Homo sapiens: one gene and its partners. The protein of the gene in region 1 purifies or fractionates together with the protein of each later gene. This does not show direct contact. Each region holds a gene or a part of one and is shown in the gene's direction. Other genes may lie near its edges.

Region 1 (4,408 bases):
TGCTGGGTGCTTGGTATGTGCAGATGATACATACACGAATGAGGCAAGGCCCCTGCCCTTAAGGCCTCTAGTTGGGTGTAGGGGAAAATCAAGTGAATACAAGAGAGCTGTAAGCACCGAGGGAGGCAACGGTAAGGAGGGAGTGGTGAACAGGAAGCCGATTGGCCTTGGGCTTAGGGAGTTTATAAATCCAACAGACATGGAGGGCGCACTCAAGTGGGAACCTGGGAGGACTGCAGCTGCCTCAGGTCCCCGCAGGGAGATCGTGGAGTGGGGTCAGGAATGCTCTGAAGAAGGCAGGACTTGGGCATGGAGGAACAGATGGACTTTCGCTGAATGCTTTCGATGAACGAGGCACTGCGGTCAGCACTTCACGGTACATTATTTCATTTATTCGTCACAACCACCAATGAGCATGTTACTGTTTAAATCATCATTCTAGGCCGGGCGCAGTGGCTCACGCCTGTGATCACAGCACTTTGGGAGGCTGAGGTGGGCGGATCATGAGGTCAGGAAATCGAGACTGTCCTGGCTAACACGGTAAAACCCCGTCTCTACTAAAAGTACAAAATATTAGCTGGGCGTGGTGGCGGGCGCCTGTAGTCCCAGCTACTCGGAAGGCTGAGGCAGGAGAATAGCATGAACCCGGGAAGCGGAGCTTGCAGTGAGCGGAGATCGCACCACTGCACTCCAGCCTGGGCAACAGGGCAAGACTCCATCTCAAAAAAATAAAATAAAATAAAATAAAATAAAAATAAATCATCATTCTATAGGTGAAGAAATTGGGACTCAGGTTAAATGACTTGTTCAAGATTGTGCAGTTAGCAAACGGCAGACCAGTTATTTGAGTTCATGCTTGTCACACTCCTAAGTCTAAGAACGCGGCTCTTAACTCATCTGCCCGGCTGTCTCCCTGGAGGCGGGAGGCCATTGTGAAAGCAGGGTTATAGACAGTGGGGTAGAGGTGTGCAGGGTGGAAGGGTGGCAGAGGCCAAGCAGGGCCCTGGCAGTGCTGGCCTGGGGTATGTGAGTCCAGTCTAGAACAGTGGGAGACATGTTGAAGAGGAACTGTGACAAGACCTACTACCAGGAGGAATGTATTGTGAAGAATCAAAGCTGACTCACCAGGTTTCTAGCCTTTCTTTCTTTCTTTCTTTTTTTTTTTTGTCGGAGTTTGGAATGTATTGTGAAGAATCAAAGCTGACTCACCAGGTTTCTAGCCTTTCTTTCTTTCTTTCTTTCTTTCTTTCTTTCTTTCTTTCTTTCTTTCTTTCTTTCCTTTCTTCCTTTTCTTTCTTCCTTCCTTCCTTCCTTCCTTCCTTCCTTCCTTCCTTCCTTTCCTTCTTTCCTTCTTTCTTTCTTTTTTTTGACGGAGTTTCACTCTGTTGCCAGGCTGGAGTGCAGTGGCGTGATCTCGGCTCACTGCAACCTCCGCCTCCAGGGTTCAAGTGATTCTCCTGACTCAGCCTCCCGAGTAGCTGGGACTACAGGTGCGTGCCATCAACGCCCAGCTAATTTTTTGTATTTTTAGTAGAGATGGACTTTCGCCATGTTGGCCAGGATGGTCTCGATCTTCTGACCTCGTGATCCGCCCGCCTTGGCCTTCCAAAGTGCTGGGATTACAGGCGTGAGCTACCATGCCCAGTCTCTAGCCTTTCTTACCGTGTGCTGTGGACAGTTAATGGTGTAACTTTAAAACTTGGGAGGAGGGGAGTTCTGTAGTCAGAAGTTTGAGAAATGCCTGACTAATCCAAATTAAACAGGTTTCTCTGTTGTAGGCCGCCTCAGAACCTTTAGTGCTGAGGTGCAATGATTCCTTACAGGGTGTTATAGCATGTAACGTACTTTGGGAAAAGCTATGTTGATGAGGGAGATTGATTATTCCTTATAGGCCAGAGCTAGGTCTGTTCATCCCACAGTCCCCTCATTTTAGAATAAGACTGTCAGGAAATATGAGGCATTGAAGTGGTGTGTGAATGGATGACTGAAAGAATGGCTAAAAGGCAGTTCAGAGGGAAAGGCAGAGGATAAGTCCCAGAAATCACCTGTATTCTAGGCAGTGGTAAAACCCAGGTGTACTTCTGCTTCATGGGGCAAGACAGGGGTCTCTCCCTGTTGACATGCGGAGTTAAAGGTGATGGGGACATATTGGTAGGAAGGTTCTCTGGGCAGTCGGAGAGGCACGGAATGGAAACTCAGGTGAGAAGTTGGCTGGAAGGTGGATTTGGGAATACCTTATACAGACTGATCTCCACAGCCAAGGATGTGGTTGATTCTTGACTAGAGTCAACACCAGTGCTTCAACCCCAGCTGCACGTTAGAATCATCTGGGAAACTTGAGATATTCATGCTCTGGTCCCAACTCTATATATTCTAATTTAATTAGTCTAGGTCAGTGGTTCCCAAACTTGTGTGCCCATTGGAGTCACCTGAGGACTCTTTTAAACATTACGAAGTCCAAGTCTCCCCCAGACCAATTAATCTCATTCACTGTGAGTGGGACACAGGCATCAGTATTTTTTAATTTTTTAATTTGTTTTTTAGAGACAGGGTCTTGCTCTGTTGCCCAGGCAGGAGTGCAGTGGTGCACAATCATAGTTCACTGCAGCCTTGAACTCCTGGACTCAGGCAGTCTCCCTGCCTCAGCCTCCCAAGTAGCTGGGACTACAGGTGCTCACCACCATGCCTGGCTAATTAAAAAAAATTTTTTTTTTTTGTAGAGACAGGGGTCTTGCTGTGTTGCCAAGGCTGGTCTCAAATTCCTGGGCTCAAGCAATCCTACCTCTGTCTCCCAAAGTGTTGAGATGACAGGTATGAGCCACCATGCCTGGCCAGGCATCAGTATTTTTTTGAAGCTCCCAGGTGAATCCAATGTGCAGACAACTTTGGGTACTGCTGACATAGGCATTTTTTAAAAAACTCCCCTGATTTTATTTTATTTAATTAATTAATTTTATTTTTTTGAGACGGAATCTTGCTCTGTCGCCCAGGCTGGGGTGCAGTGGCGCGATCTCGGCTCACTGCAAGCTCCACCTCCCGGGTTCATGCCATTCTCCTGCTTCAGCCTCCCAAGTAGCTGGGACTACAGGCGCCCGCCACCACGCCCAGCTAATTTTTTGTATTTTTAGTAGAGACGGAGTTTCACCGTGTTAGCCGGGATGGTCTCGATCTCCTGACCTCGTGATCCACCCGCCTCGGCCTCCCAAAGTGCTAGGATTACAGGCGAGAGCCACTGCGTCCAGCCAACTCCCCTGATTTTAATGTGCAGGCAGGATTGAGACTAACTACTCTAGTCTAATGGTTCTGAAACTTGAGCAGGCTTCAAAATCACTTGGAGGCCTTGTTGAAACTCAAGTTTCAAGTGTGGGCTGCATTCCCAGAGTTTCTGATTCAGTAGGTCTTGGGGAGCGGAGCTGTGAATTTGCATTTCTAGCTAGTCCTTAAAGGTTGCTGATGCACCTGGTCTGGGGACCACACTGGGGTTCCTCTGATCTCAATGGGAAGAATGGAATCAGGAGTGGTAGAGGCTGGATACTTATTAAACAGAGATGGGGTGAGCACAATTATCTCAAGAAGCCACAGGGCTAGAGTGGTAACCAGAGTGTTTTGACTGGCAGGAACCTGTGGGTATAATCATGGGGAGTCCCTGGAATTAAAATGGTTGGGGGCCAGGCACGGTGGCTCATGCCTATAATCCCAGCACTTTGGGAGGCCAAGGCGAGTGGGTCACCTGAGGTCAGGAGTTTGAGACCAGCCTGGCCAACATGGCGAAACCCCATCTCTACTAAAAATACAAAAATTAGCCAGGCGTGGTGGTGGGTGCCTATAATCCCAGCTACTCGGGAGGCTGAGGCAGGAGAATTGTTTGAACCCGAGAGGCGGAGGTTGCAGTGAGCCGAGAGCACACCACTGCACTCCAGCCTGGTGACAGAGCGAGACTCCGTCTCAAAAAGAAAAAAAAAATGGATGGGATGCTTACTAAAGTGCTGTTCGGCATATACAGAGAGGTCATGGGAGGTCATCAAGAACCATCTCAAGGACTGGAACCTAGGAAGGTGATTGTAGGGCTAGGAAAGGTACGCATGTGATCAGGCATTGGTACAGGCCGTGGCATAGAAGAAACTTCAGCCTAGAGATAGGGCAGGGCATGGAGGGTAGGTGGTGACCTGTTTCATGTGGTTGAGGGAGAGAACCTGGTTTAGGAATTGGCATGTCATGAGGTTTATCCCAAGTCTTTCACAGCCAGTGTTGATGATACAGAAGCGAAATAAAAGTGATAGCACCTTTCTGTTACTCATTTTTCTGGAATGATTATTGGGTGCCTCCTGTGTTTCAGGCACTGTGCTAGTGCTGGGGATGCGACAGGGATCGGACCCAGTCCTTGCCCCATGGTGCTCTCAGCTAGATG
Region 2 (4,301 bases), on another chromosome or scaffold:
CACTGCAACCTCTGTCTCCTGGGTTCAAGTGATTCCTGCCTTAGCCTCTCAAGGAGCTGGGGATTACAGATGCATGCCACCACGCCCGGCTAATTTTTGTATTTTTAGTAGAGATGGGGTTTCACCATGTTGGCCAGGCTGGTCTTGAATTCCTGGCCTCAGGTGATCTGCCCACCTCAGTCTCCCAAAGTGCTTGGATTGCAGGCATGAGCCACTGTGCCTGGTATAAACACTTTTTTTTTGTTCCTAAAACTTTATAAACGTGGTCAGATGCAGTGGCTCATGCCTGTAACCCCAGCACTTTGGAAGGCCAAGGCAGAAGGATCAATTGAGTGCACAAGCTCAAGGCCAACCCTGGCAAGATAGCAAGACCCCGTCTCTACAAAAAATTTTTTAAAAAATTAGCCAGGCATGGTGGTGCATGTCTGTAGTCCCAGCTACTTAGGAGTCCAAGGTGGGAGGATTGCTTGATCCTGGGAGGTTGAGGCTGCAGTGAACTCTAGCCTGGGAGACACATCGAGACCCCAGCTCAAAAAAGCAAAAAGCTTTATAAACATTACGCATTCCCTACTTCTTTGCTGAAATGAGACTACCTAGCCTAGCTGCTGAAGTCTTTTAAATCTACCTTTGTATTTCATTGATTCCTTTTATGAAAAGATACCTGTGTTCATTGCTTGGCTGCTGAGAGTAGGGGTGCAAATACCATTCTTCTACCTCAACCTAAGAAAGATTCTTGGCCAGGCATGGTGGCTCACGCCTGTAATCCCAGCACTTTGGGAGGCCGAGGCGGGCGGATCACCTGAGGTCAGGAGTTCGTGACCAGCCTCAACATGGAGAAACCCCGTCTCTACTAAAAATACAAAATTAGCCCGGTGTGGTGGTGCATGCCTGTAATCCCAGCTACTCGGGAGGCTGAGGCAGGAGATTCGCTTGAACCCGGAAGTGGAGGTTGCAGTGAGTCGAGATCGCGCAACTGTACTCCAGCCTGGGTGACAAAGCGAGACTCCATCTCAAAAAAAAAAAAAAAAAAAAGTCAGGCTTGGTGGCATATGCTTGTATTAGTAGTTCCAGCTACTCAGGAGGCTGTGGTGGAAAGATCGCTTAAGCTCAGGATATCAAGCCTGCAGTGAGCCATGATTGCATCACTGCACTCCAGCCTGGGTGACAGAACAGGACCCTGTCTCAAAAAACAACAAAGAAAACTTCACCACAACATCATTTATATTATTAAATAATTACAGTCAGCTTAAGTATATCAAACATTAGAGGAATGGTAAATGAATTATGATCTACCAACTTGATACAAGTATTATGCAGCAACTTGAAAGTATGTTTATCAAGACTTTCATAATAAGGTTAAGTCATTATGTTATAATGTTAAGCAAAGAAAAGAAGGTTACAGAATTCTGTATTCAAAATGATTTCAACTCTGGGGAAAAATGCATATTAAAAACACTCAAAGGAATGTGTAATACTTAGTGTGATTCTGGAATCTGATTTTTTTTTTTTTTTTTTGAGACGGAGTTTCGTGCTTGTTGTCCTGGCTAGAGTGCATTGGTGCAATCTCGGCTCACCACAACCTCTGCCTCCCAGGTTCAAGTGATTCTCCTGCCTCAGCCTCCCGAGTAGCTGGGATTACAGGCATACACCACCACGCCCAGCTAATTTTGTATTTTTTAGTAGAGACAGGGTTTCTCCATGTTGGTCAGGCTGGTCTCCAACTCCCAACCCTAGGGGATCCGCCCGCTTCGGCCTCCCAAAGTGCTAGGATTACAGGCCTGAGCCACCATGCCTGGCCGAGTCTGATTATTAATAAAACTGCATTTGGGCCGGGCGCAGTGGCTCACACCTGTAATCCCTGCACTTTGCTGACATGGGCAGATCACGAGTTCAGGAGTTCAAGACCAGCTTGGACAATATGGTGAAACCCCATCTCTACTAAAAATACAAAAAAAACTGACTGGCATGGTGGCGTGCGCCTGTAGTCCCATCTGCTCAGGAGGCTGAGGTAGGAGAATTGCTTGAACCCAGGAGGCGGAGGTTGCAGTGAGCCAAGATTGCGCCACTGCACTCCATCCTGGGTAACAGAGTGAGACTCCGTCTCAAAAAAAAAAAAAAAAAAGAAAGCACAAAAAACTGCATTTGCGGTCGGGTGCCTTGGCTCACGCCTGTAATCCCAGCACTTTGGGAGGCCAAGGCAGGCAGATCACTTGAGGTGGGGAGTTCGAGATCAGCCTAGCCAACATGGTGAAACTCCATCTCTACTAAAAATACAATAATTAGCTGGGTGTGGTGGCTGGCACCTGTAATTCCAGCTACTCGGGAGGCTGAGGCTCGAGAATCACTTGAACCTGGGAGGCGGAGGTTGCAGTCAGCCAAGTTGGTGCCACTGCACTCCAGCCTGGGTGATAGAGTGAGACTCTGTCTCAAAAAAAAAAAAAAATACTGCATTTGTATAATTACCTTGTTCTTTTCCAGAGTCAGATTGAGGCAGAACTGAATAAACATTGGCGGCGATTGTTAGAGGGGCTTTCTTACTACAAACCTCCCAGGTATGGCAGTTCCGGGTGTCTGGTTAAAGTAATTGTCCTAAGGAAGCTGACATGGATAAAACCATCCTTCTATGTGCTTTGATGATATTGTAGGGTTATGTATACCAGAGATAATACAATTTAGTTTACCAGTGGAAAACAGTAGGGTACATTTGTTTTTTTGTTGACCGAAAGAAAAGGAAATTCCTTCTAGAAATACAGTATTGTAGAATATAATTATGACCTATGTGTGGGGATGAGAATTTATTAAACATTCAACGAATTTTCTAATATTTATTCAGAGTCCACAGTGTCTGTGTGAGTACTAATTGGTGGGAGATAGCAGTGAAGGATGATGCTAACAACTGACACTTGTGTAGTGTTAACTATGTAACAATTAATACTCTAAGCACCTGACTTATCAAAAGTTATTTAATCCCCACAACACCCCTTTGAGATAGTTACTACTTTTATTCTTTGGGTGAATATATAGATCTTTTTATTGGGTAGTGGAAAACATAGTAATAAAATATAAAGTAGTTGCAAATAAAGAGAATGCAGCTTGTAGGGCTGGGCTTATTTGATCTTGATTCCTAGTCCAGATCTCATTCTATTATGCGTTATAGTCTAAGTCACCCTCATTTCCCTTCTACTTTTGTACTGCTTTTGAATGTATTACATCTTTACCTTCCATTTTCATTCTCTTAGGTTAACGATGAACTTTTCCTTGTTATTCATCTGTCTGTTAATTCTTCCCCTGTAATTACCTTAAAGTAAATCCCAGATACCTTGTTATTTTATCTGCAAATACTTGACTATGTATCTAAAATACATGGACTTTTTAAAAAGATAATCTCTATATTATCACATTTAGGTACCCTTATCATTGTTTCCATTTTACCAGTGGGGAAACTGAGGCACAAAGAGGTTAAGCAACTTGTCATGGTCACACAGCTACTAAGTGATAGAACCAGGATTTGACCCTGGTGGTCTCATTCCAGTGTCTGTTCTTTTTTTTTTTTTGAGATGGGGTTTTGCTCTGTCGCCCAGACTGGAGTGCAGTGTCACATCTCAGCTTACTGCAACCTCCACCTCCCGGGTTCAAGTGATTCGCTTGCCTTGGCCTCCCGAGTGGCTGGGATTACAGGTGCCCGCCACCACGCCCAGCTAATTTTTGTATTTTTAGTAGAGATGGGGTTTCACCATGTTGGCCAGGCTGGCCTTGAACTCCTGATCTCAAGTGATCTGCTCACCTCGGCCTCCCAAAGTGCTGAGATTACAGGCGTGAGCCGTCATACCCAGCCTATTGTTTTCTTTACTATCTTTTTTCTGTTCCAGGATCCAACCTAGTTGTCAAGTGCCTGTAGTCTCCTCTTAGCTGTGACAATGTCTTAGTCTTTTTTTTTTGAGATGGAGTCTCGCTTTGTGGCCCAGGCTGGAGTGCAGTGGCACGATCTCGGCTCACTGCAAGCTCTGCCTCCCGGGTTCACGCCATTCTCCTGCCTCAGCCTCCCGAGTAGCTGGGACTACAGGCGCCCGCTGTGACAATGTCTTAGTCTTTTTTTTTTTTTTTTTTTGAGATGGAGTCTCGCTCTGTGGCCCAGGCTGGAGTGCAGTGGCACGATCTCGGCTCACTGCAAGCTCTGCCTCCCGGGTTCACGCCATTCTCCTGCCTCAGCCTCCCGAGTAGCAGGGACTACAGGCGCCCGCCACCACGCCTGGCTAATTTTTTGTATTTTTAGTAGAGACAGGGTTTCACTGTGTTCGCCA
Region 3 (4,408 bases), on another chromosome or scaffold:
TGCAGGCGTGTGCCACCATACCCAGCTCTTTTTTTTTTTTTTTTTTTTGAAACGAAGTTTTGCTCTTGTTGCCCAGGCTGGAGTGCAATGGCACAATCTCGGCTCACCACAACCTCTGCCTCCCGGGTTCAGGTGATTCTCCTGCCTCAGCCTCCCGAGTAGCTGGGATTACAGGCATGTGCCACCACGCCGGCTAATTTTTTTTTTTTTTTTTTTTTTTTTTTTGAGTTGGGGTTTCGCTCTTGTTGCCCAGGCTGGAGTGCAATGGCGTGATCTAGGCTTACTGCAACCTCTGCCTCCCAGGTTCAAGCAATTCTCCTTCCTCAGCCTCCGTAGTAGCTGGGATTACAGGCGTGTGCCACCACACTGGCTAATTTTGTATTTTTAATAGAGACAGGGTTTCTCCACATTGGTCAGGCTTGTTTCGAACTCCTGACCTCAAGTGATCCGTCTGCCTCGGCCTCCCAAAGTGCTGGGATTACAGGTGTGAGCCACCTGGCTCACTTTGAAACTTTTTTTTTTCTGTAGAGACGGGGTCTTACTATGTTGCCCAGGCTGGTCTCAAACTCCTGACTTCAAGCAATCTCCTGCCTCAGCCTCCCAAAGTTCTGGGATTACAGGCATCAGCCAATGTGTCTGGCTGGCTTCTATGTTAAATACCTCCTAGGGAATCTTATCATCTGGGGTAAAATCCTCATAGTAGTCTTTTGAGAGCAGTACACAGACCCATGTTCGTTTCTTCCAGAAAAGTTAAGGAAAGTGCCCAAAACTATTCAGCTGGTCTATGGCAATTTAGGATCTTTTGATTCTGTTTGTTCTCGATTTGTAGAATATTAATTTTCTCAAATCTCACACCTGAGCCCCAACACGTGCCCTCTGTCTATATAGGTACCTTGCCGAATGGATGGTACATGGTTATCCCTCAGAAAACGTTTGGGAATTGGACCTGAAACGTTTTGGAGCCCTCCAGAGCAGCCGCACCTTTCTGCGCCACCGGGTCATGGAAGTCATGCGTAAGTGAAGCTTTATCGCAGTTGCTCCTAGTTGCAGGTATCTTCTCGGTGGCCCGTGTTGTCATTCAGAAGGAGCAAAGTTTTCCTCAGTTCTTTAACAAGTGCTTTGAGTTGGGCATTTGATTTGACTGTTTCAGGCCTGAGTTAAGGGGCTTTATGCTCCTCATGATATATACGTAACATTTTCTTTAGTGCATCGGACCTTGTTTCATTCTGAGAACAAGAAAATAGAATAGGAGTTACAGTTGGTACATAGCAGCTTCATAAATATTCTAAGCAATGCCTTCTTCCCGGTCTGCCTTGAGAGACCGTATGTCGAAGTGCGTGCTTTCTGCAGTCTGCCTTGAGAGACCCTGTGTCGAAGTGAATGCTTTCTCACTCCCACTTAGTTTTTGAGAAAATGCTTTCTCACTCCCCACTTAGTTTTTTCTTTCCAAGTCAGAGAATTTGCCGAGTTATTCTCAGAGCTTCAGGCTTCCGTGAGTGACTTTCACCATTAATCCACCCTACAGCAGCAAGATTGGGAGCCACTTCCCATATAAATACAAAACATACATTCCTGCTCTCACTCCCGTGTTCTCGCCCTGCTTCAACTTTGAAGGATTGGCCACTTCATCTTAATTTGTTATTCTACCTTGATCTCTGATTTATTTTCTAGGAAGCCCTTAGAAAGCTTTTGTATCAGGAATTGAACCAAACCACGTGGGTTCAAGTTGTAATTTCATTTTCCTGTACTGAGGAGCTGTTCTCAGACTTTGCCAAATGGTATCTAAATATTTTGGGCATACTTATGCTCAGGACTAAGTTTCTGTGTTGGCTCTGACCACCATTCTTGGTTGCAAGTAAACTGTTAGTTTGGTAGTTGAACAACATTGTTGGTGAGGACTCTGGATGGCCTTTAATGCCTGAGTGCTCACTTTTGGCCTGGGAAGAGGATGTACATCCATGGAGATGAAGGACCTAACAGCAATATGTTTAACTGCTAAGGTTCTTTAATTTTAGCAAATATTTTGGTTAAAATGTTGAACTTGGCTGGGTGTGGTGGCTCATGCCTGTAATCCCAGCACTTTGGGACGTTGAGGGAGGTAGGTCACTTGAGGTCAGGAGTTTGAGACCAGCCTAGGCAACGTAGCGAAACCCTGTCTCTACTAAAACCAAAACCAAAAAATTAGCCATGCCTAGTGGCACACACCTGAAGTCCCAGCTACTTGGGAGGCTGAGGTAGGCGAATCACCTGAGCTGGGGAAGTTGAGGCTGCAGTGAGCCATGATGGTGCCACTGTGTACTCCAGCCTGGGCAGTGGGACTGAGACCCTGTCTCAAAAAAATAAAATACAAAATCAAAGTTTTTTGTTTTAAAGTTGAACTATTATAAGCCTAAATTTCCCTACCCATAGTTACTTTGGAACCTGTACAAATCATAATTGAGCTTGAGCTTCTGCTTGGTGATATGACACTTTTGGTAGCCAATTCTCATGAAATAGAAGTGGCAGGCACATAGAAAATGGGGAAGGCGCCAGGCGCAGTGGCTCAAGCCTGTAATCCCAGCATGTTGGGAGGCTGAGGCAGGCGGATCACTTGAGGTCAGGAGGTCTGGCCTGACCAACATGGCGAAACCCTGTCTCTACTAAAAATACAAAAATTTAGCCAGATGTGGTGGTACGTGCCTGTGATCCCAGCTACTTGGCAGGCTGAGGCAGGACAATCACTTGAACCCGGGAGATGGAGGTTGCAGTGAGCCAAGATCTCACCACTGCACTCTAGCCTGGGTGATAGAGAGGGATTCCATCTCAACAAAAAATAAAAAAAAAATAGAAAAGAAAATGGGGGAGGGGATGATAGAACCGAAAGTACTAGGAGATGGAGAGATTGTCACCATGCAGAGAACCCCACCTGGCTTCCTTCTCCTGTCTCCCAACCTCCCCAAGCCTTGATGTGCCTTTTGTTTGGGATGGTGTGAGATCAGGGACCACAGATCACACTCTTCTGGCTTTTTTTACTTATTGCTGTTGAAGATTAGACCTTAAGGGAAATGAATTTTTTTTTTTTCCGAGACAGTCTTGCTCTATTGCCCAGGCTGGAGTGCCGTGGCGTGATTTCGGCTCACTGCAACCTCTGCCTCCTGGGTTCAAACAATTCTCCTGCCTCAGCCTCCCGAGTAGCTGGGATTACAGGCGCCTGCCACCATGCCTGGCTAATTTATGTATTTTTAGTAGAGACAGGGTTTCACCACATTGGTCAGGCTGATCTTGAACTCCTGACCTCGTGATCCGCCCACCTCGACCTCTCAGTGCTGGGTTTACAGACGTGAGCCACCACACCCGGCCTAAGAGAAATGAATTCTGACCCTAGCTTTGTTGTGTGAATAATGTCATTGGTACAATACAATATAACTTCTCAGATTTCAGAGCCACCTAATCAAGCTGCAATATGTACCCTTTCACTTCAGAAGTGAGTTAATTATCAGGGAGGAAATGTCTGTAACAGGTCTGAGATCCTAACACAGGCACAATGAAGAATCGAATGCCATTTTTTCACATTTTGTTACCACCTGTGTCCCACTTAGTAACCTTCTTCTCTGCTATGAAGCTTGGTAAGGTTTAGGACCCTGACCTTTCTGCCATCATTTCTACCTACTAATGTGGAATGCTGAATGTGAATACAGGCCGAGTCATGCCGTGACACGTAGCTCCAGGGAGGGACGATAGCAGCTTGGCAGGATTGTCTTTTCCTTCTGGAGCATGCCTGATACACTGGGTAATTTTGAAAATTAGACTACATTAGCCTGGAAATTGGGCCGGGCAGAGTGGCTCACGCCTGTAATCCCAGCACTTCGGGAGGCTGGGGCGGGCAGATCACCTGAGGTCAGGAGTTTGAGACCAGCCTGACCAACATGGAGAAACCCTGTCTCTACTAAAAATACAAAAATTAGTGTGGCACGGTGACACGTGCCTGTAATCCCAGCTACTCGGGAGGCTGAGGCAGGAGAATCGCTTAAACCCAGGAGGCAGAGGTTGCAGTAAGCCGAGATTGTGCCACTGCACTCCAGCCTGGACAACAAGAGCAAAACTCCGTCTTAAAAAAAAAAAAAAACTACGTTAGCCTGGAAAGCTCTTTTGAATAGAAACAACTCCAGAGTCTAGTGGACATGGGCTACTCAGGTCTAGAATCTGTGTCTTGGGCTTTGATAGACTACTCGTGTCTTTTCTAGCTTTGATGTATGATCTGAAGGTTCCCCGCTGGGACTTCCAGACCGGTAGGCAGTTACGCACCTCTCCTCTCTACGACCGGCTGGATGCACAGGGAGCCAGGTGGATGGAGAAACATGGATTTGAGAGGCCAAAGTACTTTGTTCCCCCCGACAAGGGTAAGAAGTCACATTCTCATTTTTGCTTC
Region 4 (4,408 bases), on another chromosome or scaffold:
TGAATTGTTAACATAAAGACCATCCCTATTTAGAATTAAGCCTTTTTGATCTTCATTTGTTTGATCATTCATTCATTCATTCATTCATCCATCCAGCAAACACCTCCTGTGCCCCTGCTATGTCCAGGCATGGTGCTGGCCTCCAGCAGGACAGGAAGGGCTCCACAGGGCATAGCACAGAGTGGGCACACGCACAGCAGAGGTGTGCCATGAGCACGCGGCTTCTGGCCCAGGCCTAGCCCACAGTGGGCACTCAGCAGGTGACAGCTATGATCATTATTGGTGTTGTAGGGTGGGGACCGCCATGTCCACACTCCGGCACAAGAGCTGTGAGCCGAGCGTCCCGGGACCACGGCACTCCGTGCCTGCAGGAGGGGCTCCTGAGAGGCCACCACCCAGGCCCAAGTCCCAATGCCTTTTCTCCCCTTTGTGGTGACGATCTCCCTGCCTCCGCCAGCAGCCTCCCGTTGGCCTTTACGCCTCCTTTCTTGGCCCCACTTGGGGGCAGTTCTTTCGGAGTCTGAGCCGGTGCTGCTGGGTGAGGGGAGCCCCTGGTGAGGGTGTTTATGACTCTCCACAATGATCTCATTATTTGAGACTTCCGGCTGCTTTCTGCTGGAGGCTGGTGCAGTCCTGGGTGGGTGTGGAGGAGGAGGTAATTAACCCAGGCCTGCAGCTGCTGGGAGAGGCCACAGCGGATGGCGGAGAGGCCACAGCGGATGGCGGACAGGCTCCGCTAAGGCAAGGTCCTCAGGTGGAGCAAGACCCTGGGGGCACAGGTGCTTGTGAGGCTGGTGGTCCTGGTGCTAAGCTCATCATTGCTGGCTTCTCCATGCACAAGGCCCCTCGCCCGGCCGTGCTGAGTGTCCTCAATAATGAGATGTTTTCATTGCTTTTGTGATTATCCCAAGACCCCTCTTGTCTCCTGTTATAACAGGGAGAGGGCATGCTACGTGGCTTCCTAATTAAGAAGGTCTGTGTCCCTCAGGCTTACAGGAAGTTGTTATATCACCACTGGAAACCCTTTTTACGCCATTCATTAATTACAAAAAGGACAAGCTATTGATTTTACCGAGGGTGGAACTTAGTCACTCGTCCTCCATACCATGTTCCAAATGTGTGTTCTCCAAGCACAGAAAATGCAAAGTGGAAAACATTTGGTTTGCAGCACTTGGCTCTGAAAGCCACAGGCTTCCCCTCCAGTGGAAGAGAGCCCAGAAGACAGCAGTGGCAGGAAGCACTAAGTGGAGGGAGGAAAAAGATGCAGACCCCAGGCCCAGGCAGCCACTAGGCTGCAGGGGAGCCAGGGGCTTGGTGCTGAGTGCCAGGCGGTGCTCCCTGAGCACCAGGGAGGGAGCGTACTGTCAACCTGCTACCTTGGGACCCTCCCCACCCCTGCGTCCCCATGTGTGGGTGTGACATCCTAAAGGGCCCGCTGCGTTAAGGTGACCCCGGGCCATCTGGCCCTCCTTTGGGGCAGCCACACACCAGCAGGACAGTCCTTGGAGCAGTTCCCAGGCTGCACTTGGCCTCAGGTATTTCTGAGGACAGCAGGACCACCACACAGACACACACACATGCACCAGGGACCGCAGACACATGTGCACACACACGTAGGAGCTCACGTGCACCGGCACCATAGGAAGCACTTTGCCATGTCACTTTGTTGAGTTCCTGTTTCCAGGTGAACAAACCTGGCCCTGGGCCACACAGCTGGGCCCGTGGGACTCAGAGTCCTGCTCCTGGCCATGCTGCCCCATCCCTTCCATCAGGCAGGTGCCCGGGATACATGGGGGTCATGTGCCCTGAGCTGCCCTTTGCCACCTCATCCTTTCTCTCTGGCATATTCTTGGGGAGCCCCAGAGGCTCGGAGGAGCCTGCCTGAGGCCACAGGTGGGTGCCCGGCAGCTGGCACCACTGGCCAGTGCCCCAGAGGCTCCAGTCCTTCCCCCACCAGCAGCCTCGGGGACTTGAGAGAGACATCTGTCTTCCCGCAGAGCGTTCTTTCGTCCTCCACCCACCCCCAACCCTCCATTAAAAACAGCAACAGCCAACAGCGTATGCATTTATTTACTTTGCTGGGTGGAGGGAGATGGCTGCGAGGAGGCAGCAGCCGGGCCGTGGGTGGGGCCTTGTGCTGGAGACATCTGTCTTGCTCTGTCAGCTTCTCACCCAGCGGGACAGGGTGGCCCCTTTGTCACTTGGGTAGGAGAACTATTTAGCAAAGCCATGACCTGGGGAGGCTGGCTGCCCACCAGCAGTGAGCCCGTAACCTACCATGGGACAGACACCGCCCCGCGGCCCTTTGTTCCACCTCCCCCTGGGTGGTGAGCCTGGGTCCTCAGGCACCTGGGACATCCCTGCCCTTGACTGCCATCTTCATAAACCTTCACCCTGGAAGGGCGCCCCTGGGCACTCAGGGAGGAAGGCCGCCCGCACCTTGGGAGGGCAGCGCTTATGGGCGGGCACTCCACGCAGTGACGTTGAGGCTCCTGGGCTGGTCTGGACTCTGTCTCAGAGCCTGGAACATCCAGCAGATACTACCATCCCGGGAGACGGGAAGAGCAGTGGGGCCCTCACAGGCTCTCAGGCTCCCACACATCCATCCATCATCAGACAGCATTTGCTTTGTCTGAGGGCAGAGCCTGGCTGATGAGTTTGCTGCAAATATTAAAGAGCAGGGCCACATCAGAGCCGCCTTGGGGCCCGTTGCTGGGCACCAGATTCTCCCTCAGCCTGGAGCCGACCCTGAGAATGACCTGCACCTGGGCTCGTGCCCGCCTCAGGCTGTGTATTAACTGACCTCGAGAGAAGCAGTCACAGCCCTCGGCCTGTGGCATTGGGAATGCTCGATGGCCTGGTGGCCGCTGGGGTGGGAGCAGCTGTAGTGGTTTGGGATAATATGGCTGAGGGCAGGGCAGGGCCCCCGCCTGGGGGAGGCCAAGCTCAGCAAGTGCTCCTAGGCTGTGCCGAGGGCCGGGGTGAGGTGAGGGGAGGCAGGGAAGCCCCTGACCCTGGTTCATCGTGGACACGCTGCAGGTCCATCGCCTTCCTCACTTCCCATGGACGAGTCCCACCCCTAAAAGTCCCTCGGCATAGGACGACCTGGAGGGCAGCCCCCATGCCCAGGTTTAAATGGAGGCTCTCCCCTTACCCGCTGTGTCACTTTGGGCAAGTTACTCAGCCTGTCTGTGCTTCACTTCCTCATTGGTAAAAGTGGACAATCATTTCTGTGCTGCTTGGTGGGGTTGTTGGGAAGACCCTGATGTGCACAGCCTGCCGCGCCCTAAGCATGGGTTGCGCAGGGAATATCCCCTTATCGCTGTAGTCCCTGCCCCACGTGCACAGCCCATGTGGGGGCAAAGGGGTGGGAGGGCTCTCGTCTGCAGTGCCTTCTGCAGACCCAGAGTTGGGTGGTCCTCCCACGCCCTCGGCGGCTGGAGGGCTGTGGTCACATCTCTGGTAAAGATGCCGAGAGCTGTAGGAAGTTACTCCTATTCCACTCCCAGGTGGTCATGGAGGCCAGATCGTTAGGGGACTCGAGGGCTCCGCTCCACTGCTGCGTGTGGCTGGCAGAGGTGAGGACCGGGCTGTATGAAGCCCTGGAGGTTTTCTCGCTCTTGGGCGGAGATCTCCCTGCCGTTCGGGCCGTGCCGCGTGCGTGGGGCCTGGGGCCCATCACACACCTATGAACTGGACCAGAAGGAGCATGGTCCTGAGTTAGCTCTTAGCGCCTCTTGGCGGGGAGTGGGGAAAATCGCGCCTGTGCACAGCCCAGACGGCTCCCTCAGCTCTGCCCGCAGCCCACCGCTTGTAAAGCCAAGTCCCCGTCTCTTTGGGGCCTGGAGATCATTGGTGCCTAGGGAAGAAAGGAGGGGCTGGTTTTCCTAGATCTAGGTCTAGTTAGTTTTTTGCTTTTCTAGCTTTTTAATTATAGAAAAGGTCAAATATACGCAAAAGTAAAGAGAAGAAAGAATTCCTGTGTAGTTATTAGCTCAGGGCCAGTCTTATGCGTTGACAGCCCTGACTACTCCCCCACCACAGAGAGCTCTCAACTGTGGAGGTTTTCTCTTTTAACAGCTTTACTGAGATGTAATTACATGCCGTTCTGTTCACCCACTTCCAGGATACGATTCAGCAGGTTTTCTTCTATTCACAGAGGTGGACATCCCCCGCCACAGTCTATTTCAAAACCTTTTATCTCACCAAAAAGAAGCACCACCCCTTAGCCACCACTGGTCCCCCAGCCCCAGGCAACCGCCAATCCACTTTCTGCCTCTGTGTATATGTCTCTCCTGGACATCTCGTGTAAATGGGTGATAGGCAGACCCTGTGACCGGCTTCTTTCACTGTGTTGTTTTTAATGCCTGGTTGAACATGGGCTGCAGGGAGAAATTTGGTCCCCGCA
Region 5 (4,408 bases), on another chromosome or scaffold:
TCAAAAAGGCAATTCTCAGACTGTGCCTGGGACTTAGCACAAATTGCATCAACTGCTCACACTCAATTCTATTTGAATCAGTCCTGACACATCACAATAGTTTCAATCATCAGAGGAAGATTCAATAACATTAACCATGTTGTAGCTACTAAGGCAGAAAAATAGACTCACACATTTTCTAAAGATTGTCAGTAACAAGGTTGAGACATAAAGAGGGCTTTCAGTTCACCCTCAGCAAACCAGAAAATTAAATTAACCAGTGGCTCTCCGTTCCCCAGTGGTCTGGGTAATTGAGGCTTATTGTATTAGAAAACATTTAAACTATTTGTAGTTTGATAGAAAAGAAAAATCCATCACTGAAAACTTCAGTTTGCAGTTTGAAATAGTACAAGATTTCTTTATTTCTACCACCTAACACATATTATTAAGTAATCTCATTACATTTTTGCTATTGAAGAACAGGATCTTTTTAGATGGTTGTTTCTGAAATTCATGGGATAGAGTTCCATTTTGCATATCATCTCAGCCTGTCATCCTGCCTGTTTTCTTCCTTCCACCTATTGTTTAGACATTTCTTTGTCCATTGACACCTTTCTCAGGGGGTAACCGGTGGGAAGGAGAAGGCAAGGAAGAACAGAGGTGAAAAACCAATGTGTACCTCTTACTACTTTATAAGAAGATATTATGGAAAATTTAGATGAAATTATATTTTTTGGTAGTTTTCCTTCATAGACAAATTCTGTATTTATTTAATAAATAGCACAATTCCAAGCTTTTTATGGGAAAATATAGTAGCCACTCACAATCAACTCATAATCTATGTGGAGACTTGAGGTAGGTATGAAGAAACAATTAGAAGATAATAATTGAAACAACAGACAATTAAATACTAGATTGTTGAATATAGAGCTAGTACTATCGGAATTGAGAAGAAAAGAAGTTTGGGGTTAGAGAAATGGGTCTTGAGCCTGCCTTTCAGGTCAACAAGCATGTGTTGAGTGTCTCCTGTGGGCCAGGTGCTCTGCTGGAGCATTTACCTTTAAGACCCCAGATCAATAGGGTCTTAAAAGTAAATGCTCTAGAGACAGATATGGGAAGAAGCAAGAGGGAAAGAAGTAATAAGGCATTTGTTTGATTAGAGGGTCTACCTTGGGGAATATTGAGAAATAAAATCCAAGTAGCAAGATGAGTTCAGTTGAAAGAGAGCTTTGAGATCAGCGAATTCACTCATTCAATTAAAAATATTATCAAATGCATATTATGTGCTAGGCTCAGGGTTACAATTATAAGCAAAGGGGGTAGGGTGGGGGAAGACATTTTCTGCCCTTATGGAATTACAACTATGTTAAATGTAAAGGAAAGTGACATTGTGCTAAAAGATCCTACAATAGTAGGACTTGACTTAGAGGAAAGGCTTCTATGAGAAAGTCATGATTCAGATCTGGAAAATAAGTAGATATTAATAAGGCAAAATGTATGGAGGTAAGGGAGCCAGTAGAACATTCTAATAAAAGAAATGACAAATGGAAAGGCCTCATGGTGGAGGAAGCATAATGAAAAATGAGGATGTGGGGGCCAGATCATGCAGGACCTTTTTGGCAATGTTTAAGGAATTTTGGCTTTAGCTTAAGAGTAAGGGGAAGCCATTGAAGAGTTCTGGGCATGAGCTCTTGAAGAGTTAGTATCAGGATCATGAAAAGATCCCTGTAAGATCTTCTTATTCTGGAGAATAAGAAGGGCTCAAAAGATATTTAGGAGTTGAAACTTAAGGGACTTGGTATAATATCTTGGTGTGAGGAAAGGAAGATAGCAAGGATGACACTCAAGTTCCTAACTTGGAAAACAGACAGTGGCGCCATTCCTTGCAAGAGGATCAGGTTTTAGGTTGTTTGTTTGTTTGTTTGTTTCCTTTTCTTTTGGGGGAGTGGGGGGAGGTTTATGAGTTTGGTTTTACATGTATTGAGTTTGAGATGTCTTTGAGCCATGTAAGACATGTGGAGAGGTCAAGTAAGTCATTAGCGGTGTAAATATACTTTGAGTTACTTGGATGTATTTTCTTGACTAACTGGTAGAACGCCTAATTGTTTACAACTCTGATCAGAGATGTCTAGAAGGAGCTCTTTTAATACAAAGCTGGAGCATTGTTGACTTGTCAGCTCTGCTATTGCAGAGCAAGACAGGAAAACCAATAGCATAAGAACTAAAATCTATATAAAAACGAAGAATATTGTCATATATTTTGTGAAACAGACAAATGAACAAGAAATAAAGAAAACAGAAAAATATATATAAAGGCCTATTGTGTCTTACTATGAAAGTAATGCTTAACTTCTTCACTAAATGAGCCTTCTCTGAGACTTCCTTTATATTACCACTTTCTCTAATATTCACCCCAGTAACAGCCATTCCAAATGTGAAACTTAAGTGATAAGAAGAGCTCACTGGTTGGGTTACCTCAAATAAAATAAAAATAATGTGAGCATCTTACACAATCCAGGTTGAAAGCCAAGTTTTACCTCCTGTGAAGTCTTTTGCGTTACAAACTTGGTATCTTTGCCCTTTAAGCCTCAACCTCACGTAGTATCTTTTCTGGACAACAGTCTATTTTTGGTTGGCCTTGGGAAAAGGAACTGATAAACATATTCTTTAAAAATGTGGTTCATTTCACTTTCCTAAGTTAGGCAGTGTAGCAGGGTATTAAGGAGCCAGGATATAGGGATTCAAATCCTGCTTTTGTCACTTATTCTCGATAAGATTTGAGGCAAGTTTCCTAACCTGTCTTTCTCATTTTACTTATCTGTTAAATGGGGGATACGTATAGTACCTATTGCAGAGAGCTTTTAAAAGGGTTAAAGTAGTTAATACACATTAAGCCTTTTGAATAGCAAGTGTTCGATAAATATTATTAAAACTAAAATTTGAAGTTTTTATAGAAATCAATATTATGTAAGTGATGCAATCTTATTTTATTAAACCAAAATTGAAATTTAACTGCAGTATATCAGGAAGAATCTAAATATTACTTACAGTGAAGAAGATGCTGGTCAGAACGTAATTACACTCAGGTATGAATGAATGATGGAATTGCAGGTATGTTTTACTAAATGGTATAGCTCATGAGTCTCACACCCAGGTGAATTCCCTAGTGCTATAGGATTTGATTCATTTATGGTCTCCCATTATTTATACTGTATTTGTTCTTCATTGATTTTATTCTTTGCAGTCGGATACTTCTGGAGACTATGAAATCACACTCTTAAAAATCTGTGGTGGAGATGACTGAACCAAGAAGATAATCTCCAAAGGTCCACGATGGGCTTTCCCAACAGCTCCACCTTACTTCTTCTCATACTATTTAAGAGAACAAGCAAATATAAACAGCAACTTGTGTTCCTAACAGGAATTTTCATTGTTCTATAACAACAACAACAAAAGCGATTATTATTTTAGAGCATCTCATTTATAATGTAGCAGCTCATAAATGAAATTGAAAATGGTATTAAAGATCTGCAACTACTATCCAACTTATATTTCTGCTTTCAAAGTTAAGAATCTTTATAGTTCTACTCCATTAAATATAAAGCAAGATAATAAAAATTGTTGCTTTTGTTAAAAGTAATTTCTTTGTTTGCTTTCAGAGCTTGCCAACATTGTTTGATGCCTGGTGCCAACAACTAATATTTTAAAACATGTTTCTGTATAGAAGCTGTTACTGCTTCAGTTTATCACCTTGTTAATCACACTTTTTTGAAAGAAAGGAATAAGATGAAGATGTATGTGACCCTGGCCTACCCTTTGTAGTTGTGATCAAGCTATAGGAGTGGTAATGCATGATAAGTTATTTCAGCTTTCAGAAAACATCTGCTGAAGGATTAATCTAACCACTTCCTGTCTGAATGGCAAGCATGAATTATGGTTGCTTCATGCTAAATACTACTTTCCCAGAATGGGCATTTAGAATCAAGCCTCTAAGGTTTCCTTTTCTCTTGAGTTGGCAAAACTATGCATTTAAAGAATCCATCATGCCATCTTTGAGTGGGACCTAATATGAAATACCTTGACTGATATGAAATAGATAAAGTGAAAAAAATTCCAGTTAGAGTTATTTTCCTGGACCAGAATAGAAATGATCGTACTGGCCATGTGCAGTGGCTCACGCCTGTAATCTCAGCACTTTGGGAGGTTAGCAGGCGGACTGCTTGAGCCCAGGAGTTTGAGACCAGCCTGGGCAACCTAGTGAGACCCTGTCTCTGCCAAAAATACAAAAATTAGCCTGGCATGGTGGCACATGCCTGTGGTCCAAGCTACTTGGGAGGCTGAGGTGGGAGGATTGCTTGAGTCAGGAAGCTCATTTGGCAAGTTAGTTCTGTAATCAATACTATAAATGTCAGTCATAACTAAGATGATG
Region 6 (4,408 bases), on another chromosome or scaffold:
CATATATATATATATACACACACATATATATACACACATATATATATAGAGAGAGAGATGCTGCTCATCTATATATAATCTATGTAAAAAAATTTTTCTTTTTTTTTTTTTTTTTTTGAGACGGAGTCTCGCTCAGTCGCCCAGGCTGGAGTGCAGTGGCGCGATCTCGGCTCACTGCAAGCTCCTCCTCCCGGGTTCACGCCATTTTCCTGCCTCAGACTCCCAAGTAGCTGGGACTACAGGCGCCCGCCACCACGCCTGGCTAATTTTTTGTACTTTTAGTAGAGACGTGGTTTCACCGTGTTAGCCAGGATGGTCTCGATCTCCTGACCTCGTGATCCGCCTGCCTCAGGCCTCCCAAAGTGTTGGGATTACAGGCATGAGCCATCGCGCCCGGCTAAAAAATATTTTTATATTTATTTATATTTATATATAGATGGTGCTTATATCCAAAGTCTTTATTCTCTCCTTCATGTTTCTTTTTTTTCTTTTTTTTTTTTTGAGACGGAGTCTCGCTCTGTCGCCCACGCTGGAGTGCAGTGGCGCGATCTTGGCTCATTGCAAGCTCCGCCTCCCGGTTTCACGCCATTCTCCTGCCTCAGCCTCCCAAGTAGCTGGGACTACAGGCGCCCGCCACCACACCCGGCTAATTTTTTGTATTTTCAGTAGAGACGGGGTTTCACTGTATTAGCCAGGATGGTCTCGATCTCCTGACCTCTTGATCCGCCTGCCTCGGCCTCCCAAAGTTCTGGGATTACAGGCGTGAGCCACCGCGCCTGGCCTTCTTCTTCTTTTTTTTTTTAAAGACAGTGTCTCACTCTGTCGCCCAGGCTGGAGTGCAATGGCATGATCTCAGCTCACTGCAACCTCAGCCTTCCAGGTTCAGGCAATTCTCTTGCCTCAGCTTCCTGAGTAGCTGGAATTACAGACATGTGCCACGACGCCCAGCTAATTTTTTTATTTTAGTAGAGACAGGTTTCGCCACGTTGGCCAGGCTGGTGCCGAACTCCTGGCCTCAAGTGATCCCCCCTGCCTGGCCTCCCAAAGCGCTGGGATTACAGCCGTGAGCCACCGCGCCCTGCGCCTTCATATTTTTCTTAACCCTTCCTTTCTTCTTTAATTTTTTCCTGTGGGGGCATGTTGACCTGAGCTGGGGTCCACGCTGTCCGGGTTCTGTGTTCATCACATCCCCTGCCCGCACAGGACGTGAGCCTGCACTTCGTGCTCTGGGGCTGCCTGCACGTGTACCAGCGCATGATCGACAAGGCGGAGGACGTGTGCCTGTTCGTAGCGCAGCCCGGGGAACTGGTGGGGCAGCTGGCGGTGCTCACTGGCGAACCTCTCATCTTCACACTGCGAGCCCAACGCGACTGCACCTTCCTGCGGATCTCCAAGTCCGACTTCTATGAGTATGACAGCCCGAAGTTGGAGTGTGGGTGGCACTCGGAGGACCCCAACCCGTGGGAGTGGCCAGAACCCCATCCCTCAACCTCACTCCTGGAAGAGCAGAAGGGAGCCCCCAGATCTGGCCTCCCAGCGCCGGTGTAGGACGGTTTTGAGGCCTTCCTCTTTCATCCCAAGTCTGTTCCTGCAGGATCATGCGCGCACAGCCCAGTGTGGTGCTGAGTGCGGCGCACACGGTGGCAGCCAGGATGTCGCCCTTCGTGCGCCAGATGGACTTCGCCATCGACTGGACTGCAGTGGAGGCGGGACGCGCGCTGTACAGGTGCAGCTCCCACCGCGCTGCTCAGGCCCGGCCTAGGGGTGGGGACCTGGGGGTGGTCAGACCTTGCTGACCTCCACGCCCACTCAGGCAGGGCGACCGCTCCGACTGCACTTACATCGTGCTCAATGGGCGGCTGCGTAGCGTGATCCAGCGAGGCAGTGGCAAGAAGGAGCTGGTGGGCGAGTACGGCCGCGGCGACCTCATCGGCGTGGTGAGCGCGACCCCCACCCACTGACCTCTGGCCTTTTCCAGGCCAGTCCCTCGACAACTCACACACATCATCCCGGGTAATCCAGGGAGTGGTGAATGCAGCTCCCGACCTCTGAGGTCACCCAGTCCACTCCCCGCCCAGACCTCATTTCGTTGGAAAAAGGGGATTCCGCCTGTCGTGGATCCCTGTCCTCTCCCTCTCCCCAGAGCTCTAATGGGTAGCGAGCGAGGCTTGCTTCCCTACACCCCCATTGCAGGGGAGCCCTAGATGGGGCAGTACAGCCCCCTTTCCACCCATCTTCGGCCTCCTCATTCCCCACCCAAGCAGCCCCAATCATGCACGCGGCCCCCCAGGTGGAGGCACTGACCCGGCAGCCGCGAGCCACGACGGTGCACGCGGTGCGCGACACGGAGCTGGCCAAGCTTCCCGAGGGCACCTTGGGTCACATCAAACGCCGGTACCCGCAGGTGCGGCCTGTTGTGGGCGGGGCAGAGAGGCGGAGGCGGGACTCCGGGGGGGTGGGGGCCGGGCCTAGTGTGTGGGCGGGGCTTACAGAGGGGCGGGGTCGAGGGAGGGGCCGAAGCGAGAGAGTGAGGGCGGGGGCTCTCGGGGGTGGGACCCAGGTAACGGGCACCCAGGAGCCCCGGCATAGGAGGGAGAGGTGGGACCTGGACAGCCGCTTCCCAGGTCTCACTGAAATGCCGGCCTCCAACGCCCCCAGGTCGTGACCCGCCTTATCCACCTACTGAGCCAGAAAATTCTAGGGAATTTGCAGCAGCTGCAAGGACCCTTCCCAGGTGAGAGCCGGCCGGCCCAGAGCGTGCTGGGAGATGTAGTCCGGCGTCCAGAGCATGCTGGGAGGGAAGCCTTCTTTCCTGAGGGATGCTGGGAAATGGAGTTCCGCGAAGAAATCGTGCCCCTGAGGGTTTCAAACCCTAAGTAGGACCCAGGTGCAGAGCATTCTGGGGAATGGAGTTCGTGTTCCTGAGCATGCTGGGAAACGAAGTCCTCGACCCCTGGCGTGCTAGTTAATGGGCTCGAAAGTAAATCAGTGGTGCCGGGGAGGGAGTCTTAGGCGGTGGACTTGGCGTAGTCTGCCCGGGAGTCAGGGCTTGCTGGGGAAGTCCACGGCCTGGACGTTGAGAGAAAGGGAGTCCTAGATCAGAATATGATGGCAGGGCCGTCATGGTGGCTCATGCCTGTAATCTCAGCACTTTGGGAGGCTGAGGCAGGAGGATCGCTTGAGCCCAGGAGATTGAGTTTGAAACCAGCCTGGGCAACATAGTAGGACCCCCGTCTCTACAAAAATTTCAAACATTAGCTGGGCTTGGTGACACATGCCTGTAGTCTCAGCCACTCAGGAGGCTGAGGCGGGAGGATTGATTGCTTGAGCCCGGAGGTCGAGGCTGCAGTGAGCCGTGATCGTGCCACTGTACTCCAGCCGGGATGACAGAGCTAGAACCTGTTTCAGAAAAAATAAAACAGCAAACAAACAAAACTCCCCATACCATGATGGAAAATAGTCTGTGGATTGTTGTTTAGGACTCTGGGCACCTCGCCTTCTGAAGTTACAGCTTGCTGGGAGATGTAGCCCCCTGTTTCAGCCTGTGGCTTCAGTGAGCTAGAACAGAATGGGGCGTGCGGTGGGGTTGGAGGCCTGCTGAAATGAGGGCCTGAGTTTCTACATTGTGGTGGCCAGATTCTGGGCCAGCCCAGCAACCTAGATACCCCTTTTCCCTCCAGGGGTTCTACCCAATTGGCCCTGAGCCCTAGATCCCCCAAGGCGGGGGCAGGGCGGTAGTGGCAGAAAAGACATCATTAAGAAATTACAGAGGCCTGGGGCGGTGGGTCACGCCTGTAATCTCAGCACTTTGTGAGGCTGAGGCAGGTGAATCACTTGAGGTCAGGGGTTCGAGACCAGCCTGGCCAACGTGGTGAAACTCATCTCTACTAAAAGTACAAAAATTAGTCGGGTGTGGTGGTGGGTGCCTGTAATCCCAGCTACTTGGACGGCTGAGGCAGGAGAATCGCTTGAACCGGGGAGGCAGAGGTTGCAGTGAGCCGAGCCTACGCCATTGCACTCCAGCCTGGGCAACCAGAGCAAAACTCCATCTCAAAAAAAAAAAAAGAAAGAAAAAAAAAAAGAAAAGAAAAGGAAAGAAATTACAGATAGAGAATACAATATCTAGAAGACAAAAGAGGGTCATCTTGCCGTGTGGCTGAAAGAGGGAGGGAGGAAGGGAGGGAGAAAGAGGCTTTTCTAAGGACAGTGAGCTGAGACTTGACAACTAAGATGGGGCCAGACATGAAAGAGAAACCAGGGGTGCTGCACAGGAGGCTGGTGGTTTTGAAGCACTGAGGAGGAAAGCGATCAAGGGGAGAGGTGATGGGGGTTGGGGGGTAAGTCACATAGGGGCTAGGGGCTGTGGACAGGCACTTGAGCTTATTTAGATTGTTATTGTTAGATTGGG
Region 7 (4,208 bases), about 23 Mb from region 1:
TTACATACCTTATTTCCTTTAGTCTTTACAACAACCCTTTGAGGTGAACACTTATTACCACCTTATAAGTGGGGAAACCGAGATTGAGGAGCTAAGTAGTCTGCCCAAGGTGGCATAGCTTGTAAGGGCGAGAGTCAGGATTCTGCCCCAGACCAGCTGACTCCAGGGCCTCTGCTTCACGGTAAAATGGCGGTGAGTCAGGTGCTTACGCCTCCAGCTCTTGCTGACCCTTCCCACTATTGCTTTTCTTCTTCCCATTCAGAACTGAACTTTGGTCTAGCTTGGGTTGCATCTTGAGTTTTGGTTTGGTTTGTTTCCTCAGCTTTATGGCCGGCACAAGGAGTATCTCAGCAGCCTCGTAGGCACCGACTTTGAGATGGTGAGTAGCTTGGCTTCCTGCAGCACTGTGAGCTGTGTTTAGCCGGAGCATTCTGACTGTGGATGAGTTACACTACCTCTCTTAAAGGCCCAAAGGTATACTCTACAGTGTGAAAAGGAAGTCAAAGAATAGCACATATAGTCCTTGTTATGTGTTTTGCAACATTGCATGTTGATAGAGAACTGTTAATGCTAAGAAAAAGGTCTGAAAGGCTATGCACATGCTGTGGGTGGCTTTCTCTGGGGAGGGTGGGATTAGATGTGGTAGAAGGGTAGTGGGTGGTGAGAGGGATATATTAGGGATTTTTGCTTTTTATTCCCTAAACTTAGGTAGCTTTGAATTTTTATCAGTTGTAATGTATTTAGGTATTACTTTATAATTAATTTAAAAAATAAATATAAGGATGAAAAATGTCTTCTTCACCTTTCATGTGGATATTTTTTCAAAATACCCCATAGAGAGGCAGGGGTGCCATTTCTGTTTGTCACATATTTTGGCTCTTAAAAAATATAGGCCTGATGCGGTGGCGCATGACTATAATCCCAGCACTTTGTGAGGCCAAGGTGGGAGGATCACTTGAAGCCAGGAGTTTGAGAGCAGCCTGGGCAACATAGTGAGACCACATCCCTACAAAAAAAAAAAAAAAAATTAGCAAGGCATGGTGATACATACCTGTAGTCCCAGCTACTCATGATGCTGAGGCAGCAGGATTGCTTGAGCCTAGAAGTTTGAGTTTGCATTGAGCTATGATCACACCACTGCATTCCAGCCTGGACAACAGATCAAGACCCTGTCTGAAAAAAAAAGAAAGTGGTTTAGTTCAGCTATTCTGTTGTGCTGTTCTTTGTCTTTTCTCATTCTAAGAGTTCTATCTCTAGACCTGGAAACAAGGATAGAATTACTTCCTGGTCTCCCTCTCTTTCTCTGAAAAATTAACCTTCACTATTTCCATATTGCATAAGCAACAGATATTCAGTATTTAAAAGTTAGATAAGACATGCACAAATAATTAAAAAAGAAAACTCCCTGGTTTCTTGACCTCAGCCATCTAAAGGGAAGAGGGCGTTCTGGCTTCCCATTGCACACCACAGGACAGTTGCTGTTGCTTGAATAATTTCCCATAGTGCATTGTCCTCACTGCCATTTAAATTATGTACTTTCCCCCTACATTGTGAATCTTAGGAATGAAGGAAACAGATCTGTGGAGAAGTGTCAGGGTGGGGAGAAAGTGCAGTAGTGACACCCAGGGCCTGACCCCTAGTGGCAGGTCGTCTGCAGATTTGTAGATGGGGCTGGAGGAGAAGTGCCAATTCCCTCCAGGCCTGCTGATCCTTTCCCACTTCTCTTCACCTTAGACTGTCCCAGGTGCCCTCCGGCTCTTTGTAAATGGAGAGGTCGGTAAGTGTCTTGCTAGCATAGATCTCTTGATGCTTAGGCACGTGCCTAGATGGAGCTGTGAATAGTCTCCTCCACTCTGGTAGAGGCCTTGTCTGCTGTACTTGGGAAACTCAGTGGTGAGTCTTTCCTGGAAACGCAGAGGGTTCCTGGCCCTCAAAAGACTTGCTCTCAGGGTGTGTAGGCCCCTCAGGATTGGGTTGGGTGCTAAGGGTGGTAGGAGAAAAAGCTAAAATAGCTTCCTGTTTTCTCTCGTAGTTTCAGCCCAAGGCTATGAGTATGACAATCTCTACGTCCACTTCTTTGTAGAATTGCCAACTGCTCGTAAGTAATATTCTTAAGTCTCTCCTTTTATACCCATTCAGACAGATCTAGAGGCATTTGGTCAGGCTTCCTTTCCCACTCCTCTGCTGAAACTGTTACTGTTCTTTTCAAGGTCATAGATCACATCCACTTTACCAAACCCAGTGGAGACTTCCCTGCTTTCACCTCGCTTGACCTTCCTGAAGCATTTTCCAGAGCCCACTGTGCTGCATGACACACTTCTCTGGCTTCTGGCTCCACACTTCTCTCTCCTATCTCGCTGGTGGCCCCTCATCCTTCTTGGGTGATGCCTTCCCTTCTGTTGATCTTAAACCGTGAGAGTACCCACAGCTAAGCCAAGGCCTTCTGTTACTCTCTGTCTGCAGTCTTCCTGGGCAACGTCATCCATCCTATGGCTTAAATACCATCAATACGTCTCAGACTCCCAGGTTTCTGCCTCTAGCCTTAACCTTTTCCCTGGACTCCAGACTCATATCCAGTTACCTCTTTTGTCATTTCTGTCTAACATGACCAAAAAGAACTCTTGATTCCTCCTCTTCCCTCAAACCTCTCCTCCCTGGTCTTCCCCATCCTAACAGAATGGCAGTGTCATCTACTGAGTTGTTGATGCCAAAAACCTAGGGAACATCCTTGATCCCTCACTTTCCCTAGCTCCCTATAGCCAGCCAATCTGTCAACAGTTCCTGTCCGTTCTGTCTTCAAAAGCTGTTGTGAACCTATTTGTTCTCTCCAGCACCCTACACCAAGCCACCACCATCTCTTGTCTAGGCCAGTGCATTCAACTTCTGATGTATCCCCCTGCTTCCTGCCTTGCTCCCATTTGCCGTTGATTTGCCACAGACACCAAAGCCAAGTTGAGCTTTAAAAAATGTAAACAAGTTATGTCCCTTTTGAGCTGAAAACCCCAACAGCTTCCCCTCCCACTTAGAGTAAAATGTAAACTTGATACCCTGAATGAGCTGGCCCCTGCCTATCTCTTCCATACAACCTTCCAGTCATTCTTCCCAGCCAGGTTCATTCCCACCTTGTAGCCTTTTAAGGGCCGTTTCCTTTGTCTGAAACCCTTTCTGCCATATCTTAGCATGGCTGGTTCTTTCTGAGTTTAGGTCTCAGCCTGTGTCGCCTCTGAGAGGCCTTCTCTTACCACCCAGTCTAAATGAGCCTCCCAATCACTCAGTCCCTTCCCCGTTTTGTTTTTAGTATAGCACTCATCACTACCCAATAGTCTCTTGTTGGTTTGGTTTTTGTCTGTCTCCCTGCTTCCCCCAGAATGTCAGCTCCATGAGAGATGGGGATCTTTTCTATCTAGTTACCAAGATACCCCTAAGATATACTAGCACATAGCAGGCACTCAGTAAATGGTAAATGAATGATTGATTGTGTGAATAAATGAATAAAGAAACTGTCCGCCCCGTCTGGGAAGTGAGGAGCGCCTCTGCCCGGCCGCCCCATCTGGGAGGTGTACCCAACAGCTCCGAAGAGACAGCGACCATTGAGAATGGGCCATGATGACGATGGCGGTTTTGTCAAAAAGAAAAGGGGGAAATGTGGGGAAAAGAAAGAGAGATCAGATTGTTACTGTGTCTGTGTAGAAAGAAGTAGACATAGGAGACTCCATTTTGTTCTGTACTAAGAAAAATTCTTCTGCCTTGGGATGCTGTTAATCTATAACCTTACCCCCAACCCCGTGCTCTCTGAAACATGTGCTGTGTCAACTCAAGGTTAAATGGATTAAGGGCGGTGCAAGATGTGCTTTGTTAAACAGGTGCTTGAAGGCAGCATGCTCCTTAAGAGTCATCACCACTCCCTAATCTCAAGTACCCAGGGACACAAACACTGTGGAAGGCCGCAGGGACCTCTGCCTAGGAGAACCAGAGACCTTTGTTCACGTGTTTATCTGCTGACCTTCTCTCCACTATTATCCTATGACCCTGCCACATCCCCCTCTCCGAGAAACACCCAAGAATGATCAATAAATACAAAAAAAAAAAAGAAAAGAAAAAAGAAACTGTCTTTTTCTGAATGACTTGCTTTCCTCCCAGGCGAGCTTACTATATTTGGTCTTTGGCTTTCAGACTGGTCAAGCCCAGCATTCCAGCAGCTCTCAGGA

The links.
Region 2: the proteins of RAD51D (region 1) and NUP188 purify together in Homo sapiens (affinity purification with mass spectrometry; one study listed by BioGRID and IntAct). This does not show direct contact.
Region 3: the proteins of RAD51D (region 1) and PDPR purify together in Homo sapiens (co-immunoprecipitation; 2 studies listed by BioGRID and IntAct, with this or other methods). This does not show direct contact.
Region 4: the proteins of RAD51D (region 1) and ACOT7 purify together in Homo sapiens (affinity purification with mass spectrometry; one large-scale study listed by BioGRID and IntAct). This does not show direct contact.
Region 5: the proteins of RAD51D (region 1) and ANXA3 purify together in Homo sapiens (affinity purification with mass spectrometry; one study listed by BioGRID and IntAct). This does not show direct contact.
Region 6: the proteins of RAD51D (region 1) and PNPLA6 purify together in Homo sapiens (affinity purification with mass spectrometry; one study listed by BioGRID and IntAct). This does not show direct contact.
Region 7: the proteins of RAD51D (region 1) and MKS1 purify together in Homo sapiens (affinity purification with mass spectrometry; one large-scale study listed by BioGRID and IntAct). This does not show direct contact.

The regions. Positions count from the first base shown.
Region 1 is NC_000017.11:35,112,827-35,117,234, reverse strand, and holds part of RAD51D (DNA repair protein RAD51 homolog 4), read left to right. Parts: intron 1-197; coding exon of another isoform or gene 198-376; intron 377-4,408. UniProt on the Homo sapiens protein: Involved in the homologous recombination repair (HRR) pathway of double-stranded DNA breaks arising during DNA replication or induced by DNA-damaging agents. Bind to single-stranded DNA (ssDNA) and has DNA-dependent ATPase activity.
Region 2 is NC_000009.12:128,950,295-128,954,595, forward strand, and holds part of NUP188 (nucleoporin NUP188), read left to right. Parts: intron 1-2,478; coding exon 2,479-2,552; intron 2,553-4,301. UniProt on the Homo sapiens protein: Component of the nuclear pore complex (NPC), a complex required for the trafficking across the nuclear envelope. Required for proper protein transport into the nucleus.
Region 3 is NC_000016.10:70,138,011-70,142,418, forward strand, and holds part of PDPR (pyruvate dehydrogenase phosphatase regulatory subunit, mitochondrial isoform 1 precursor), read left to right. Parts: intron 1-76; exon of another isoform or gene 77-174; intron 175-888; coding exon 889-1,013; intron 1,014-4,223; coding exon 4,224-4,379; intron 4,380-4,408. UniProt on the Homo sapiens protein: Decreases the sensitivity of PDP1 to magnesium ions, and this inhibition is reversed by the polyamine spermine.
Region 4 is NC_000001.11:6,267,923-6,272,330, reverse strand, and holds part of ACOT7 (cytosolic acyl coenzyme A thioester hydrolase), read left to right. Parts: intron 1-4,408. UniProt on the Homo sapiens protein: Catalyzes the hydrolysis of acyl-CoAs into free fatty acids and coenzyme A (CoASH), regulating their respective intracellular levels.
Region 5 is NC_000004.12:78,606,833-78,611,240, forward strand, and holds the end of ANXA3 (annexin A3), read left to right. Parts: intron 1-3,223; coding exon 3,224-3,283; 3' UTR 3,284-3,615; downstream 3,616-4,408. UniProt on the Homo sapiens protein: Inhibitor of phospholipase A2, also possesses anti-coagulant properties. Also cleaves the cyclic bond of inositol 1,2-cyclic phosphate to form inositol 1-phosphate.
Region 6 is NC_000019.10:7,548,704-7,553,111, forward strand, and holds part of PNPLA6 (patatin-like phospholipase domain-containing protein 6), read left to right. Parts: intron 1-1,203; coding exon 1,204-1,409; intron 1,410-1,594; coding exon 1,595-1,726; intron 1,727-1,813; coding exon 1,814-1,937; intron 1,938-2,290; coding exon 2,291-2,404; intron 2,405-2,658; coding exon 2,659-2,734; intron 2,735-4,408. UniProt on the Homo sapiens protein: Phospholipase B that deacylates intracellular phosphatidylcholine (PtdCho), generating glycerophosphocholine (GroPtdCho). This deacylation occurs at both sn-2 and sn-1 positions of PtdCho.
Region 7 is NC_000017.11:58,208,549-58,212,756, reverse strand, and holds part of MKS1 (tectonic-like complex member MKS1), read left to right. Parts: intron 1-322; coding exon 323-379; intron 380-1,734; coding exon 1,735-1,777; intron 1,778-2,032; coding exon 2,033-2,098; intron 2,099-4,173; coding exon 4,174-4,208. UniProt on the Homo sapiens protein: Component of the tectonic-like complex, a complex localized at the transition zone of primary cilia and acting as a barrier that prevents diffusion of transmembrane proteins between the cilia and plasma membranes.